Linked DNA regions of Homo sapiens: region 1 is linked to region 2. Evidence: fine-mapped expression QTL. Tissue or cell type: whole blood. Region 2 holds a variant in brackets; the other region holds the start of a gene. All regions are shown on one strand. Distances are between the middles of the regions.

Region 1 (8,059 bases), 42 kb after region 2:
GCTGGAGTCAGCCCCTGGCTCCCAGGGTTCCCCCCAGGCCAGCCCCTGAGCTGGGAGCCTGCTGAGGCCCCTCCCACCTGAGCCCTTCTCCGGCCCCCCGCTAGACTGCATCTACACAATCCAAGGGGACCCTGAAGGCTGGCTGGGGACTCAGGACCCACACAGCCCCTCAGGATGACACACACAGGGTGGTCCGCGGGCAGTGCCAGGCCTCAGGCGGCCCAGGGCAGAGTAAGCAGCTTTGTGGCAGTGTGGTGTGTCAGCGAGGGGAGCCTTCCGTGTCCCGTTGGCTGGGGCTGGGGCCAGGGCACGCAGAAGGGGCTGTGCAGCCAGGAGGGCCCCCCTCCGGAATTGCTCCTGGGCACACAGCCCTCTGTGTCCAGGGGCCTCCCAGGGTGATGTCTAAAGTCCCTGGCAGCTGTGGTCCTGGAGAGAGGCCCACAGAGAGGCGGAACGGAGGGCCCACCCCGCAGTACGACCCGAAGACATGTGAGCAGGAGCCACCGGCAGGTGGGCGCTGCCCCTGAGAGTGCATACGGGGAGGGTGGGTCCAGGAAGCCAGCCTAGGGGTGGTGTCCGCGCCCCCATCACAGAAGTCTCAGCCCTTTCTTTTCTCTCCGTGGGCGCCGGGCAGCAGCGACTGCCTGGGGGATGGGCGAAGGGAAGGCGCTGGCCGACCCCACCCATGGAGAGAACACAGCCACAGGCCGGGACGATACATCAAGCTCGCACCCACGGCCCTCACATGTCCACGAAGACCATGAAGCACCAGCCCAGGCCCCCGACCAGCAGCATGGTGACGTGGATGCCATAGACGAGCAGCTCGTTCACCAGGCGGAAGTCCACGCGCCGGCGGCCCAGCAGCAGCAGCAGCACCGACAGCTTGCGCTGGAAGCGCAGCAGGACGCGAACGCCCAGGTACTGTAGGCAGAAGAGGGCGGCCAGCGCACCCCAGAGCGCCGCAGTGAACAGGCTGCAGCTAAAGTAGAGTAGGAAGCGGATGAAGCCGTACAGCCAGCGCGTCTTGATGTACACGTCGAAGTTGTTGTACTTGGTGCGGGCCAGGTGGGAGGCGCGCACGGGCCCGCAGGCCGCATGCAGGCAGGTGGTGTGCGGGCCGTGGAAGGAGCGCACCCGCCGCGGAATGGGCATGACCGGCATTGGGCCCCGGCGGCGGCGGCGCTAGGTCGCAGTGGCGGCGGCGGTGTCCAGGCGGCTGTTGGCGTAGGGGTCATGGGCGCCTAGGCCTGGGAGCCCGCAGCTGACCCTGGGGGGAGGCGTCGGCCTGCGGGGAGAGCCGCAAAACCCACGTCAGTATGAGGACACCATGCGGATCCCTCCCCAGGCAATCAGCTGGCGAAAGTGGACACAAACTCCAGCACCAGGACTACGGGAAAATGGAGTCCAGGGCGGGATCTGCAGGCACTCCTGGGCTCTTTTCCACAAACCCTCCCAAGGATACTTCCAAGGGGCCCACCACCTGGGGAAGCCAAAGTGCTTGTTCTAGGGCAGCACTGGGGAAAGGGGGCCTTGGGGACAGTGGCCAGGGGAGGCCCCCGGAAGTGGTCAATGCCAAAACGGATGGGAAGGGGCAAGAGTGGCTCTTTCCTGCAGGATCCTCGCAGCTCCCCACTAGCTGGACCACACTCTGCTCTTAGGCAGTTTGCCCGTTACTGCCCTGGTCTTCTGCGGCTGCCTGACCCAGGGCTGATGCAAGCCCTTAAATGGCATCTGCAAGAAGCCACCACAGGGCCGGGAAAAGGGACTCCAGGGCTCGCAGGTGAACCGAAAACGAGCCCGGCGGGAGCAGGTGACTCCAGCAACCTGCTGGGTGCCAGATGGACGGCTCGGGGGCCGTGGGGTCACCTTGCTGGGCCTGAACCCTGGCACTGTCCTTCCCTAGCAGTGACTTTGGGCAGGTCACCTGACCCCAAGACGGCTCCTGCTCTGTCCAATGGGGGTGCCAATAGCACTGCCTTTGTGGGTAGCTGTGGGAGGGAAGGGGCTGGGCCTGGCGTGCACAGTGGGGTCGGCCCGGGGCCTGGCAGCGGCCCTTACAGACTGGGCTGCAAAGAGCAGAGGCGGCATTTGGCTCTCCAGCTTCACCTAGTAAAGGCCGTTTATACCTTGCCGAAATAATCTGTAGACGGAATGAACTCAAAGGTCAGGAAATAAAATCTGAGCAGGAAAGTTGGTAACATTACAGGGGACTGTTGCCAAGAGCTTCGCCTGCCTTCAGATTCAGCCTGGGGCCCTGCCGTGGGGACCTGGCCAGGGCGGAGGAGGGAGGGGCCGGGGCCGCCTGACCCTCCCGTGCCCGCAGGGGCCCGACCTCGCCCTCTCCCTCCGCCCGGCTCCTCCACGGGGTGCAGGGGCCAGAGCGGCCCTATTTAAGGCCGGCCTTGGCCTGGAGCTCGCCCCGGCCGGGACCCCGGCCATGGCGGTGCCACTCAAACGCGACTCGGCGGAGCTGTGTCCCCGCAGGGTCTCGCGGCCCGCGGCTCCATCCGGGTCCCTGCGTTTCTGCAGACGCCCGCTCGGCCCGGCCCATGGACCCAGGACTGTTTCCTCGGGGCCGCAGAGACGCAACGGGCCCCGGCCAACTCCGCGTGAGCACCGGGCCTGCGCCGCGCCGCGCCGGGCCCCCTGGCTGCAGAGCCCCTGCCGGAGCCACTTCCGGGTCCCGCGCCGCGCGTTGCCCTGGAGACGGCCCCCGCCTAGGCCGGGTCCCCGACCGCAGCTCACCCGGTGCCCTCTCCGCGGCGGCGCCGGCGTCCCGGACCTCGGGGCCGGCCGGCGGTGCTAGGGGCCGGGCCTGCGGGTGCCCCTGTCCCTCGGGGCTCCGTGCGCAGGGCGGCCGCATGGTGCTGGGGCGCGCGGCTGGGGGCGCTGGCAAGGCGGCTGAGGGCGTGGTTCACGCGTCGCCGGCTGGGGTCGCCCTGCAGGTGAAGGGGCTCTCGGGCGCGGCCGCCGGAGGCGTTTGGCCTAGCGTGGGAGCCGTAGCGCCGTCCCTCGACGGCCACCGTAGGGCGGCCTCACGCCCCCTCCACCCGCGCCGACCGAGCCGCACTTCCCTTCCCCCTGCTCCGGGCCCGCGCTGGGCGTCCCGGACTCGTCGCTTCCCGAGGGCGTGCGTGCGTGCGTGCGTGCGCACGCTGCGAGCAGTCCGTAGCGTTCCCTCCCCCGAACGCCCTCGGTGCCGCGCCTGGTCTTCTGCGCCTGCGCTTGCCGTTCCTGGGCCGCGCCTCCGCGCACGCGCTACCGCATCCCGTGGAGAGGCAGTGCGCAGGCGCGCTTCCGTGGAGCAGTCCTTTGGCCCCAGCAGAGGGCTTGACCGTGGTCCTGGCCCCGGACTGAGGTGTCTGCGACCCGGCGCGCTGCTGCCGTCGCTGGGGTGGGGCCGGGCCCCGGAGGAAGCCGCTTTCCCGGCGGGGGTGGGCGGCCCAGGGACCGGGAGCAGGTCTGGTCCTCGCGGGGCCGTGTGCGAAGGCCTCCTGCGCGGCCTGGGGCTGGGAGGACAGGGCGGCGGCGGGAATGAGGGCGCCCCCCAGGCTCCAGGAGGGCGGGGAAGGGTGGGGGCGGCTGACGCCACGCGGACCCGGGCGGCACGGATCGGGTGTGTAGCTGCGAGGCCCGGTGGGCCGGCGGCGACGTCGGCAGCCGAAGTAGGGACAGCCCCGGAGCACGAGCAGGCCCAGCAGCAGCCCCAGGGCCGCCCCCCCGCCGCCCCCCAGTGAAGGAAGGGGACTTGTGTTAGTGTCCTCACGCCTGGTTCGTACAGGCTGGCGGTTGTCCTGGGGGTTTCCAGCGAGGAATGTGTTGGGGAGCGCTCCTGGGTGTGGCTGCTGGGTAGGAGGGGAAGGCAGGGTCAGCAGCCCCTGGGGCGACCGTAAAGTGGGTGGCCCTTCAAATTCAAGGCACTGGAACAAGGGGGCTGGGCCCTCCTGCCCACCAGGCCCGTCATTGGCTGCAGGCCTCCCGGGACGGCGAGCTGGCTCCTGGGCCCCTGTCCTTTGGACCAGGGCCGCCCTGAGGGCTGGCACAGCTACCTTCTCCACTGTGGCCCCATCCCCGCCACAGGAGAGAGAGCCGCCTTTACCCGACATGAGCAGGAGTTCGAGGAACATCTGGACGAGCAAAGGCCACCAGGAGGTAGCACAGCAAAAAAGGCCAAGAGCCTGTTTTCTTTACCGATGGCTGGCGGCAAATATTCCGAAAGAAACGTGTCAGGCAAGAAGCGCTAGTTCACGCCTGTCATTCCACCGCTTTGGGAGGCCAAGGCAGGGGGATCACTTGCCCCAGAAGTTTGAGACCAGCCTGGGCAACATAGTGAGGCCCCTGTCTCTACAAAAAACTTAAAATCAATAAACAGGTCTCCTTCCTTCCTCAATAGTCCTGTTGGTGGCTCACCTCTCTGCCTCTCCAGATGTGAGGCAGATCCACACGTTTAGCTATTGAGATAAGGCTGGGCGTGGTGGCTCACACCTGTCATTCCGGCCTCAGATCTCTTGTGCCCAGGAGTTTTAAGACTAGCCTGGGCGACCTGGCTGGCAACATGGCCTCCACAAAAATAAATAAAACATTTTAAATATATAAACATTGAGATAATAGCATCTTGATGCCTGTCTTCATTTTTTGTCTTCTGTTTTAAGGACTATTAGAGACAAACTAACCAAAGATAATTCTCCCCTCCCATGTGGCTCGTGCTGGGACGCCGGCACCGTGAGATGGCGCCCGTGGCCAGATAGAGGGTGGCGTGTAAAGCAGGTGGTCACCCGTCACTCGACTTTTCGCGTGCTGGTGAGGGTGGTCGCATGTCCATGGATCAGGGCTCACACCTGGCCCATCTGGTGGCTGTGCCATGGGAGGAGCAGAGCCACAGCCCCGCTCCTTGCTGTGGGTTTCCCGTGTCCTCCCTGCCCTGCAGTCCCCTGACTCCAGCTCTGGATTAGACACCCCCTGCTTCCCACTGTGCACCCGCCCAGAGAAGCACAGCATGCGTGCCTGCACTTGCCCCCACGCTGCTACCCTGCTCTGGGTACCAAGGACACAGGCACAGCAGAGCCCCCACCCTCGAGGCACCTGTCATCTTGTGACAGGGACAGGCTGAGGGGCAAATGACCAGAAAGGGTGGCAAGTGCCATGTCAGACATATGGTCTTCATACAGGGGATGTCCCAGGACTGCTGGGCCAGAGACCCCTCCATGTGGGTCAGCATCACCCAAGCCAAAGGCCAAGGAGGTCTCTTGGGGGGTGTGGCCGTCAGAACAAAGCTGCCAATGCGCGTACTTTTAAAGGTGCGGTCAGCTAGTGAGGCTGTGGCTGGCCCTGGCTGCATCCAGACCCTGGAGTGTCCTGCAGCCAGGGGCGGATGCAGGTTTTGTGGGGCCTGAGGCTTCTGTGGTTTAAGGGACCTTCCTTAAGAAAATACAAAATTAGGAACAGGCCTTGAAGCTTCTGCTGCTAAACAGGGTCAGGTGAACCCACTGCCAGCTGTGCCCAGAAGACAGTCCCCCAGGCTGAGTCAAAAGTGGTTCATAGGCCGGTCATGGTGGCTCACGCCTGTAATCACAGCACTTTGGGAGGCCAAGGTGGGCAGATCTCAAGGTCAGGAGATCAAGACCATCCTGGCTAACACAGTGAAACCCCGTCTCTACTAAAAAACTACAAAAAAAAAAAAAAATAGCTGGACGTGGTGGCGGGCGCCTGTAGTCCCAGCTACTGGGGAGGCTGAGGCAGGAGAATGGCATGAACCCAGGAGGCGGAGCTTGCAGTGAGCGGAGATTGCGCCACTGCACTCCAGCCTGGGCAACGGAGTGAGACTGTCGCAAAACAAAGAAAAAAAAGAAAAAAAAAGTGGTTCACAAAGTCACGTCTAGTGTGACCCCTCATCAGCACAGACGTACTCCTAGGTGTCCGTTTCTGGGTGAAGTCCTGGAAGCAGATAAATGTTTGCAGAGGTGATCTATGTGTGGTGGGATTAAAGAGATGAATATATTTTACTGTTTTTTTAACATTTCTGTACTTTCTGATTTTATTTTTTCAGCATGAACAAACAAAAAAAAGCCGGATTTGGACAAATAAAAAGAAGTGCATGTCAGCCCGAGTGTCCTGAAACATGTTCCTGTATTAGAATCTCCAGGAAAGCTGGGGCCCCCACTCGCCACTACCTCAGGCTGGGCCCGCAGTCACGTGCTTCTCCCTACAGGAGGGTTCTGTGTCCTGAATTCCCAAAGGGTGCAGCTGTCCCCTTGTCGCCTTGTCTGTGTTGATGGTTCCACACTCTCTGGTCAGCCACCTGCCCCGCCAGTCTCTGCTCGCCCATGGATGGGGATGACCACTCTAGCTGTGAGGGTGGCTTCCCGGGCTAACCCTGCTGCTGCTGCCCATTGCTTCCAAGGCTGGGATATCACTTGGGGTTTGGGGTGAGGGGACAGTAAGGGGGAGCCCTGGTTGCCCTTTCCAGGAGAATGAGTATTTAAGTGCGGAGTTGTTTATTACTTGACTTCAGCAGAGGCGCCATGGTCGGGGAAACGCTTCATGTGCCTTGGGTTATAGGGCAAGTCCCATCTGTCTGCCTTGAATTTCGGTTTGGAGAATCTGTAAGCTCCACACACGTGGAAGCGTCTGTGCCCCGGGTGTGGGTTCTGATCTTGGTTGTGTTCGTGGCTGGACGCTGTCCTTGAGGCCACCCCTTGGCACCCTTCACAGAAGACAGTGGGGGTCGCCCTTCCCTGGCTGACCCTCCAGAACCGCCAGCCTCCCCTACCTCCCTGTGAAACCAGGGTACAGGGCAGGAGCCTGGACCTCTTTACAGTTGCCTTTTCTCTCTCTCTGTCCCTTCTCCATCTTCCGAGCTCCTACTCGCCCTTCAGGACCCAGCTCGAATGCCCCATCTCTGGGAGGCGCCTTCAATCTTGGGCTGCCCCTTCCGTCACACCCCCTGTCCCCTGTCTCCTGCCTCCCCTTCCTCCTCACACAAAGCCACCCCCGCCTGTTGGTGGCCTGTGTCTCCGCTGGCCCAGGGCTCTCTTGCCGTGGCCACCGTGGGTTTTGGCCTCGTGACCCAGTCCATGCGTGCACAGCGCAAGTAGCTTCCCAGGACACCGATTTCCTCCCCGGCCGCAGCTGCTTCTGGTCCTCTGCCCACTCCCGGGTTCTGCGCCTTCCTGCGCCCCCGGCCTGGCCACAGCTCGGTCACCCCAGAACCACCGTGTGCTGGGGATTTGTCACGGGTTTGTCCTGACGTGTGAGGTCCAGCCGGGGTCCCCATAGCCTCCCTGTCCCCGTCCCTGTCCCCGTCAGGCCTCCTGCTGCGCTGTGGACAGTGGCTTGGCGCCATCTGCTGGGCTGGTGCCTGTGGTGCCGCCAAGCGCAGGAGGGACCCAGCGGCTCCAGGTCTGTGGGAGACTTTAAGTTGGGGCCGAATGTGGTGCTCGCTGCCGACGCAGAGCCCCCAAGCTGGACGGGACCCCTGGCCGTGCGGCTGGGAACACCTGGGGTTGTCCTACCTTTGCAGGGACAGCGAGCCAACCCCTGCTTGGAAGGAGCACTTTCCCCACCGAGGCCGGCCCAGGGCGCGTGCTGAGCAGGTGGGTTGAGTGGGTGGAAAGAATGCAACCCCTGGTTGTGGGACATGTTGAAGCCCACCCCAACCCCTCCAGTACCGTCCTTCTGTCCCTCCACTTGCTGGGGCTGGGGGCCAAGGATGGGGTCACTGTGGGGACTTTATCCAGCTGGTTGACTTCAGGGTCCTGGCAGGGAGTGGCTCTTGCTGCCAGGACAGTAGAGGCCTAGAGAGTCCTATCTCTGACACCAGCCACCTTGCAGGGTTCGGGCCAGGGAAGGGGAAGGGATGGGAGAGAATGGAAACCTCCAGAGTCATTTTAACTGGTCGTTGGACAGAGCCAGTGCGACTTCAAGTTCAATGACAAACCCCCTCTCCATGTCTCTGGGGTGGGGTGGGGCCTGTGGCCCCACAGAGCTGAGCCACCCAGGAGGCCAGGGAAGGAGACGCAGTACACAGGAGGCCAGGGAAGGAGACGCAGTACACAGGAGC
Region 2 (8,059 bases):
CTGTCTGTACAAAAAATAAAAATAAACTAGCTGGGCATGGTGGAGCGCACCTGTGGTCCCAGCTACTTGGGAGACTGAGGTGGGAGGATCGCTTGAGCCTAGGAGGTGAAGGCTGCAGTGAGCTGTGGTCTTACCGCTGCACTCCAGCCTGGGTGACAGAGCAAGACTGTCTCAAAAAAAAAATTTTTAATAAAAAATAAAAAATGAGGACCCCAGTAGGAGCTGCAGTGGACAGGGGGTGTGAGCGTGGATCCAGCTGTATCAGAGTATAGTCCTGCCCATCAGGGGAGAAGAGGCGCTTGTCTCAAAGTGAAATGCACAATTGGTCTCGAATGCCAAAGAGAACAGGAAAAGACAAAAGACTCCAGTGGATGTATGGACAACCCAAGAATGTTTGCAGAAAGTCGACTTGATTTCCCTCGGTTCATAATACCTGGAAATAAGGAGTATGAAAAGCAGCTGCGTGTGTGCTACAATTTTGGCACAATTTGCTCAGTTTCAATGGGTCTATTCCTAATTGTTTTAAAGGTGCTTATGCATCCTCTACTGCCAAGTACTGCATTTGCGTCCAAGCAGGATTTGGTGTTCTGTCTGCTAAAATGCTGCCTGGTCTTGGAGTATCTGGTCTGCCCAGAAGCAGGGTCAGCAGTAAGCGGTGATCCTTCCCTCTGCCCTGAAAGCAGACCCTGGCTCTCACCGAAGTAACCAACAGGGATTTGCACAGACTCCGTCATGTCCTTGACTATTTTTTTAAAAAAATTAAGATCTTGGCCGGGCACAGTGGCTCATGCCTGGAATCCCAGCACTTTGGGAGGCTGAAGCAGAAGGATCACTTGAGTCCAGGAGTGAGAGACCAGGAGAGATGGTAAGATTATAGTCTCCACAAATAATTTGTTAAAAAATTAGCCAGGCATGGCCAGGCGCGGTGGCTCATGCCTGTAATCCCAGCACTTTGGGAGGCCGAGGAGGGCAGATCACGAGGTCAGGAGATCCAGACCATCCTGGCTAACACGGTGAAACCCCGTCTCTACTAATAAAATACAAAAAAATTAGCCGGGCATGGTGGTGGGCGCCTGTAGTCCCAGCTACTCGGGAGGCTGAGGCAGGAGAATGGAGTGAACCCGGGAGGCGGAGCTTGCAGTGAGCCGAGGTTGTGCCACTGCACTCCAGCCCGGGCGACAGAGCAAGACTCCGTCTCAAAAAAAAAAAGAAAAAAGAAGAAAAAGAAAACAAAGTTCTTCATTCCAGAAACATTAAGGTTCTTTATAAAGATGTTAATAATTTCTGAGGTTATTTAAAATTATGTATCATCCCTTCAATTAACACAGACGGACAGGTCAAAACCATTCCTCGTTCTGTCACAGCAAGGCTGCCTGCCTTCCTCAAGGAACCTATCTCTGGTTCAACATTGACTCAATACTGACCGTGCCTCCACCAAGTCACACCCTAAACTGCACCGACAGATGAAGCTGGACCTTCCGAACGACCATCCCCTGTGACTCCCAGAGGGCCCATGTCGGTGGTCACATTCTGTTCCCAGCTCACCTGCGGGGCTCGGGGATGTATCACTCAGCCTCGGCGTCTACACCTCACACAGAGCGGCAGGAAGCGTGGCCTTCCCAGCCGAGGCGGAGTCGGCAGGGCCGGGGGATGCTGGCGGGAATGGGTTCTCGCACGGCCTCCTTCTGGGAGCCCGGGAGCTCTGTCCCCCACTCACTGTCGCGTATGGGGCTGGGGGAACAGCAATCGGATCCTCACGAAACAGTGACGTGAGGCCCAGTAGAGGACGTGACCTCCTCCAGGCCGACGCTCTTGGTTCTGCGTGAAATGAGCCGATTCCACCTTGTCCTCAATGGCGGCTTCTGCTCCCTCAAAGCGGCAGGCCAGGAAGTGGGGAGCCCCAGGTGTGGGTGCAGCAGGCTGCAACGCCCCCCACACACAGACTTGGCCTCAGACAGCTGTCACATGGCACCAGGGAGGTGGCCAGGACTCCAGGACACATTCTGGTCCAGTCCGGCACTGACCGGGATGAGGGAGAGCTGGCTGCGGCCGCCTGGCTGGGATACTTGGGGGGAAAGCCCTCCCTAGCTCCCCCGAGGCTGGCTGCTGCGAACTGACTGAAGCGCTCATTACAGGGTGTCCACTCTCCCCGGGCTTGGAACTCGGAGGCGAATGTCTCCCCGAGCCTGTTTCCCTTTCGTAGACGTCGGCAGCGGCTCCGTGTGAACCTGCCGTCTCCTACATCGCGGTACAGTTTCTCAAACAGATCGCGCAGCTGGGGCCAAGCCCAGGCTGTCGTGCCTGAGGACGCATCTTCTTTTATCGGGCATAGGCCCACATTCAGGGTTCGGGGTCGCAGGTCCTGCGGGAGCAGAGCCTGCAGGGCCCCCTCAGGAAACCTGTGCTGATGCTGTCCTGAGCTCCCTGTGCCCGGTCTTCCACACGCGGGGAGGACACCCCCGTGCAGACTGCGCCCAGGGGAGGAGACCCACCCAACACCCACAGGCCCTGTCGGTGAAACCTCAGAGACAGGGGTCTTGGGTTTGGGCTCTGAGGCTCGGGACACAAGATTCAATAAGAGCAAAGTCATCTCCTCTGGAGTGAGAGGCTGCTGAAAACGGAACCCAGGCTTTCCTACAAAGCGCCCAGGAGCAGCCCCGCAGCCCTCCATGTGCTCAGTGCCTGTGGCCCTGGGGCTGCTGCCCACTCCTCTGCTGCATCTGTGACAAAACTCCGAGACACCCGCTTCTCAAAGCCCTGCATGAAGGTTACGTGTGGTCACGAAGAGATCCTGCAAAGAACAGTCATCGAAAACTTGGAAATAAAGTAAACAGGCACCCTTCGCGGCCTCTGCCTGATTTGCAACTCAGTAGTGATGACACCCCATACCCCGTGACATCCTAAGTCTCCTATATGCAACCAAAAGAAAAGCAAATGATTTCCATCCAGTAGCAAAGAGAACCCCAAGGGGCAGCGTTTCCCGGCCCTGCGGAACTCGAAGAAGTGCTGTAACTAACCCAACAATCTATCCAGCCTCCTCTCCTCAGTGACTCTAAACACCCAGTTCCTCAAATGTTCTCTGAGCCAGGTTTCCTGCCCATACCACGACAAAAATGAAATGAAATTCTGATGCACCCCCCAGCCCGGTGAACCTCAAAGACACTATGCCGAGTGAAAGCCACCAGGCACACACAGACAACGCCACGGGGTTCCACTCACACGCGGGCACAGAGCAGGACAGTTCAGAGACAGGAAGCAGAACGGAGGTTTCCAGGGGCTGGGGGAC[T/C]GCGGAGGGGAGTTGGTGTTCAATGGGTGCAGTTTCGGTCAGGGATGATGAAAACGTTCTGCAAACAGAGGTGAGGGTTGACAGCCATGGGAATGTTCTTACTGCCACTGAACTGTGCGCTTAAAAAATGGTTAAAATGGTGAATTTCATGTTGTGTATATTTGACTACAATTTTTAAAAAATGTATTGGCCTGGTGGTGGCTCATGCCTGTAATCTCAGCACTTTGGGAGGCTGAGGTGGGTGGATCATGAGGTCAGGAGATCGAGACCATCCTGGCTAACACGGTGAAACCCCTTCTCTACTAAAAATACAAAAAAAATTAGCCGGGCGTGGTGGCGGGCGCCTGTAGTCCCAGCTACTTGGGACTAGGCGGAGAATGGCGTGAACCCAGGAGGCAGGGCCTGCAGTGAGCCGAGATCGCGCCACTGCACTCCAGCCTGGGCGACAGAGCGAGACTCTGTCTCAAAAATAAATAAATAAATAAATAAAATAGCCGGGTGTGGTGGCGGGCGCCTGTAGTCCCAGCCACTTGGGAGGCTGAGGCAGGAGAATCGCTTGAACCCGGAGGTGGAGGTTGCAGTGAGCCGAGATTGCGCCACTACACTCCAGCCTGGGTGACAGAGAAAAAAACAAACAAAAATTAGCTGGGCGTGGTGGCGGGCGCCTGTAGTCCCAGCCACTTGGGAGGCTGAGGCAGGAGAATTGCTTGAACCCGGAGGTGGAGGTTGCAGTGAGCCAAGATTGCGCCATTGCACTCCAGCCTGGGCGACAGAGCAAGACTCCGTCTCAAAAAACAAAACAAAACAAAAAAAGCAGAAGAGAAACATGGCCTTTGGCAAAACAAACAAACAAACAACAAAAACCCTAACAGGGCACAAAGGACATTGTTGATAAGTCGTGCTTCATTAAAATATTGAAAAATAAAGACCAACACTAAGAGAAAAAACAAGCCGAGAAGGACAGACCTTTGCAACATATGTATCTTCAGCAAAGGGCGTGTGGTCAGAGTATGGAAAGAATTCTACAAATTCTACAAATCCATCAAGAAAAGGGAAACGCACAGAGGAGGGAGGGGCAAGAGCCCAGAACAGGCCCTTCACAGAGGAGAAGGTCCCCAGGCGGTGACACCTGAGCAGGGGGCAGCTGTGTGGTCACCCGGGAAATGCGAGGGGACCCCAAGGACTCTGGCCACCCCCACACCGGGGAGCAGGCAAGGGGGCAACAAAATTGTGCTTAAAATTATTTATAAAGTAATAAAAGGTAAGTGAAAGTAGTTTGAAAAGTGAATAAGGAATCAGTGATGAATACTGACTTGTGCTTTATACGCAAAGGTGTGCCTTTGGGAGTGAAAACCACGTAAATAATATCAGTCCAATCATAGTTTTGTTTTGGGTTTTTTTGTACTTCTTTTTAGTAGAGACGGGGTTTCACCATGTTAGCCAGGCTGGTCTCAAACTCCTGACCTCGTGATCCACCCGCCTCGGCCTCCCAAAGTGCTGGGATTATAGGCATGAGCCACCGCGTCCGGCCCAATCATACTTTTATAATCACGAGGTTTGCCGTACTATCTTTAAACAATCCATGCACGAGTTTACAGACACAGTGGTAGAGAGTGGGATGGACCAGGCACCCACTCAAACCCTCATCCCCAAGGCCGGGTGCATACCCACCACCTGGCAGGGGTCCCCAGGACCCCCACCCCCCGCAACCTTGTGGCCAGCCCCACTCGCCTGCAGGCCAGAAGACGCCAGAATTCCACGAAGCTCAGTCCCTCGGAATGCAGAATTCATGAGGGGGACAGGCACATCTGGGGGCAGGTTCTCCAAATAATTCTGGCTCTCTCATTTCAGGAACTAAAGGCCCAGGCTTTTCCATTTAATCTTTAAATGGCAATCCTTAATACAGGTTTTTCCATTTAATCCTTAAAGTAAGCGCAGGAGAAATACCATTACCCTACTGTACAGATGAGAAAACTGAGGCTTGGAGGTGGGACGTGGCCCGCTCACTGGCCCTGGAACCGTACCTGGATGCATAGACGGGACTCCAGGGGAATGTACTCCTAGGCCATAAACCTGTGCGAGGCAAGAGGGGCCAGCCCAGCCCCGACATCGGGACAGAAAGGGGCGTGGGAATGGCTGGGGGACAGGTCAGGCACCTGAATCTCAGCCACATCAGAGCTGAGCAAAGCGAGCCCCTCAGGCAGGGCTGTCATCACGAGTGTGGCACCACAGCCACCGCCGCATCCTGGTCCCCAGTAAGCACCCCCAGCGTGGTCCCCTCCAGGAACTGAGGCTCTCAGGGCAGGGCCTCTCGCCCCTTGTCCAGGCGACCTTGTGGGTAAGCAGGGGAAGCCAAGGCAAACTCAGGAGCACACACCCATCCCCACGGGGAGCAGATGCCCTTAGCACCGTCGCCGGCATGATGCCGCGCCGCCGCCGCCCCTCTCCGATTCCCTAACGGTTCCCGAGGGAGCACTGAAGGTAAATATGTTAATTTGACTTCAATCATAGCTTCTTCTTTTTTTTTTTTTTAAGTGCACACGGTATTAGTTTAGGGCACGTAACCTGAAATCTACTCACGTATGTCTGTGCGTCCCGTCCTTAACAAGAGAAAGCTTGAGCTCTTGCCAAGAGGGCTAAGGGCTGAAGAGGCTGCAAGGTGCAGACATCCTCCCAGGGTGGGAACTGCACTCTCTGAGCTGAGGGGGAGACCAGGGAGAGGCAGGGCACTTGCCCAGAGTCCCACACCCAGGAAGGGCTGCCTGGCACCCAGCCACCTTCAGGCCTGATGGAACGGGGTGCCATCCTCTGGCTTCCAGGCAGGAGACACTCCTACAAGCACAGGATGCCAACTGCAGAAGCCAATGCGTGGACTCCGGGGGCCCTGCAGGTGCAGCCAAGGAACCAGGATCTCCAGACAGGCCCCAGGCTGTACAGGCTGGACGCCAGCAGGTGGGGCAGCAAGCCCCTCCTCACCCGCAGGCATGGGCACCCCATGGCCTGCTGAGAATGACACGAAGGAACAGGCTGACTCACTGAGTGGAAAGGCCACTTGGCCCTCAACCGAGGGCAGAAGAGAGGCCAGAGGCCCCCCAGAGCTCCTTCCTGGGGCCCTGCCGTGGCCGGCACTCCCCGAATGCACTCCAGGGTCACCAGAGCCCTGGAGCGTGGCTGCAGAAGCCAGATGGGTCTCAGGCCTCCCACTACCCATTCTGCGACTAGGAATAGGAAAGTTACGAAATCTTGAAGCCTGTAAGATTTCAGGCCACCAGGACAGGCAGCAGCCGGGGAAGTCTCAACTTTCCAGGACCCCAAGGCCCCAGGGGCCAGGCCACAGCCGTGCTGTGGAAGGAGCCGCTAGCCCTGCCACCTGTTCCCCAAGGAAAGCTTTTGGAGCTGTTCCCCAGGGAGAGGCGGCCCTCCTGGAGAGCTACAGATGGGCTCTGCTGGCCATGGGGCTGCCTGGGCCAGGCCTGGGGCTGACCTGATAGCCCACACCCTTGGCCACCCACTGTAGTCATGGCCCAGCTGGCAGAGACACACAGTCCCTACCCCGGGCGTGGCTGCCAGCCAAAGCCCATGCCACTGTGCCCCACAAAAGCCAACGGTTTGACCACAAGGGCCTCCTGGCAGGGCCCTGTAGCCACGCCACACCAGGGATGGTGCCAGAGCGGTACTGCACCCCCAGCCTGTACAGCCTCATCCCAGCAGGGCCCCCGCACCCATCTCTGTGCTCTCCTTCTCTGAGCCCAGGCCCCTTCGCTGCCCCTACATGGGATGCCACCTCTCAGGGCATCCAAAACCCAACCCAGGTTCTAGGAAAATCCGCCCAGCAGCCCACTGCAGTGGGGTATTAAAAACGTCTCTATTAAAAATACAAAATTAGCTGGGCGTGGTGGCGCACGCCTGCAATCCCAGCTACTCGGGAGGCTGAGACAGGAGAATTGCTTCAACCTGGGAGGCAGAGGTTGTGTGCTGAGATCGTGCCACTGCACTCCAGCCTGGGTAACAACAGCGAAACTCCATCTCCCCACTACCCTGCTCCAATAAAAAAACTCCAACGCTACTGCCAGCACACCATCCCCCACCCCACAGACCGCACAGAATCAGCCCAGGAAGGACACTCCACGGAGCTCTTGCTTATCTGATTTGGAGGTCGTGGAGTGTGGGTTAGCTGGGGGTCTCCTCCTCTCCAGACACGTGGAGACGGGGGGCCGTGACACACACCCAGACCCCAGCGGAGTCACTGCAGAGGATGCAGGGAGAGCAGACGGCAGATGACCACAGGCCGGCCTGTGCCCGGCGCAAACTCCAGCCAGCTGCATCAGGCCCCCAGCAGAGCCGCCCCTGCGTGCTAGGGTGCCAAGCCCCAGCCGCTCGAGTAGGTCGGGGGGACACAGGCCTGGGACAGGTCCAAGGTGGCAGCCCCTCCCGCTGTCTCCCACCCCAAGCACATTCTGATTAACAGAGGTGATGGAGGAGGAAGTTTTCATCCCAGAACCCCACGGGCCCAGGGTCACGGATCACGAACGGCTGCGGGGAGAAGAAACGCGCGTTTCCCATATTTCTCGTAACACAGGAAACCATTCCCAGAGGAGGAAGCCCAGACCAAACGGACCCTCAGTGGCCACTCGGGGACTCTCCAGCCACCCAGGCCGCTGGAAACCCAGGGGAAGGAACCAGGTGGACTCAGTCCCGACGGGCACTGGGGGCTCCGCAGGACAGGGCAGGGGTCAGCATGCCTGGGCTTGAACTGTAGAGTAACCGGAACGA

The links. PIP is the estimated chance that this variant, and not a neighbour inherited with it, causes the effect.
Region 1: it holds the start of TMEM250, and the variant in region 2 is fine-mapped to the expression of TMEM250 in whole blood (TOPMed, PIP above 0.99).

The regions. Positions count from the first base shown.
Region 1 is chr9:136,115,740-136,123,798 of GRCh38, forward strand. TMEM250 (transmembrane protein 250) reads right to left here and starts at 3,136. Exons shown (of 2, transcript NM_152833.3): 1 at 2,746-3,136; 2 at 1-1,285. The coding sequence starts at 1,161. The coding sequence ends at 742. It overlaps LOC107987142 (a long non-coding RNA gene), which reads left to right and starts at 2,053. Exons shown (of 2, transcript NR_165242.1): 1 at 2,053-2,163; 2 at 6,047-8,059. RefSeq lists enhancers at 1,082-1,657, 1,658-2,233, 3,387-3,963, 3,964-4,538 and silencers at 2,250-3,299, 3,330-3,719.
Region 2 is chr9:136,073,255-136,081,313 of GRCh38, forward strand. The region is part of intron 1 of NACC2 (NACC family member 2); the gene reads right to left. Among named protein-coding and RNA genes, the nearest start is that of NACC2, 18 kb to the right of the region's middle. RefSeq lists enhancers at 1,382-2,132, 7,485-8,059. The variant T/C (reference allele first, on the strand shown) is at 3,287.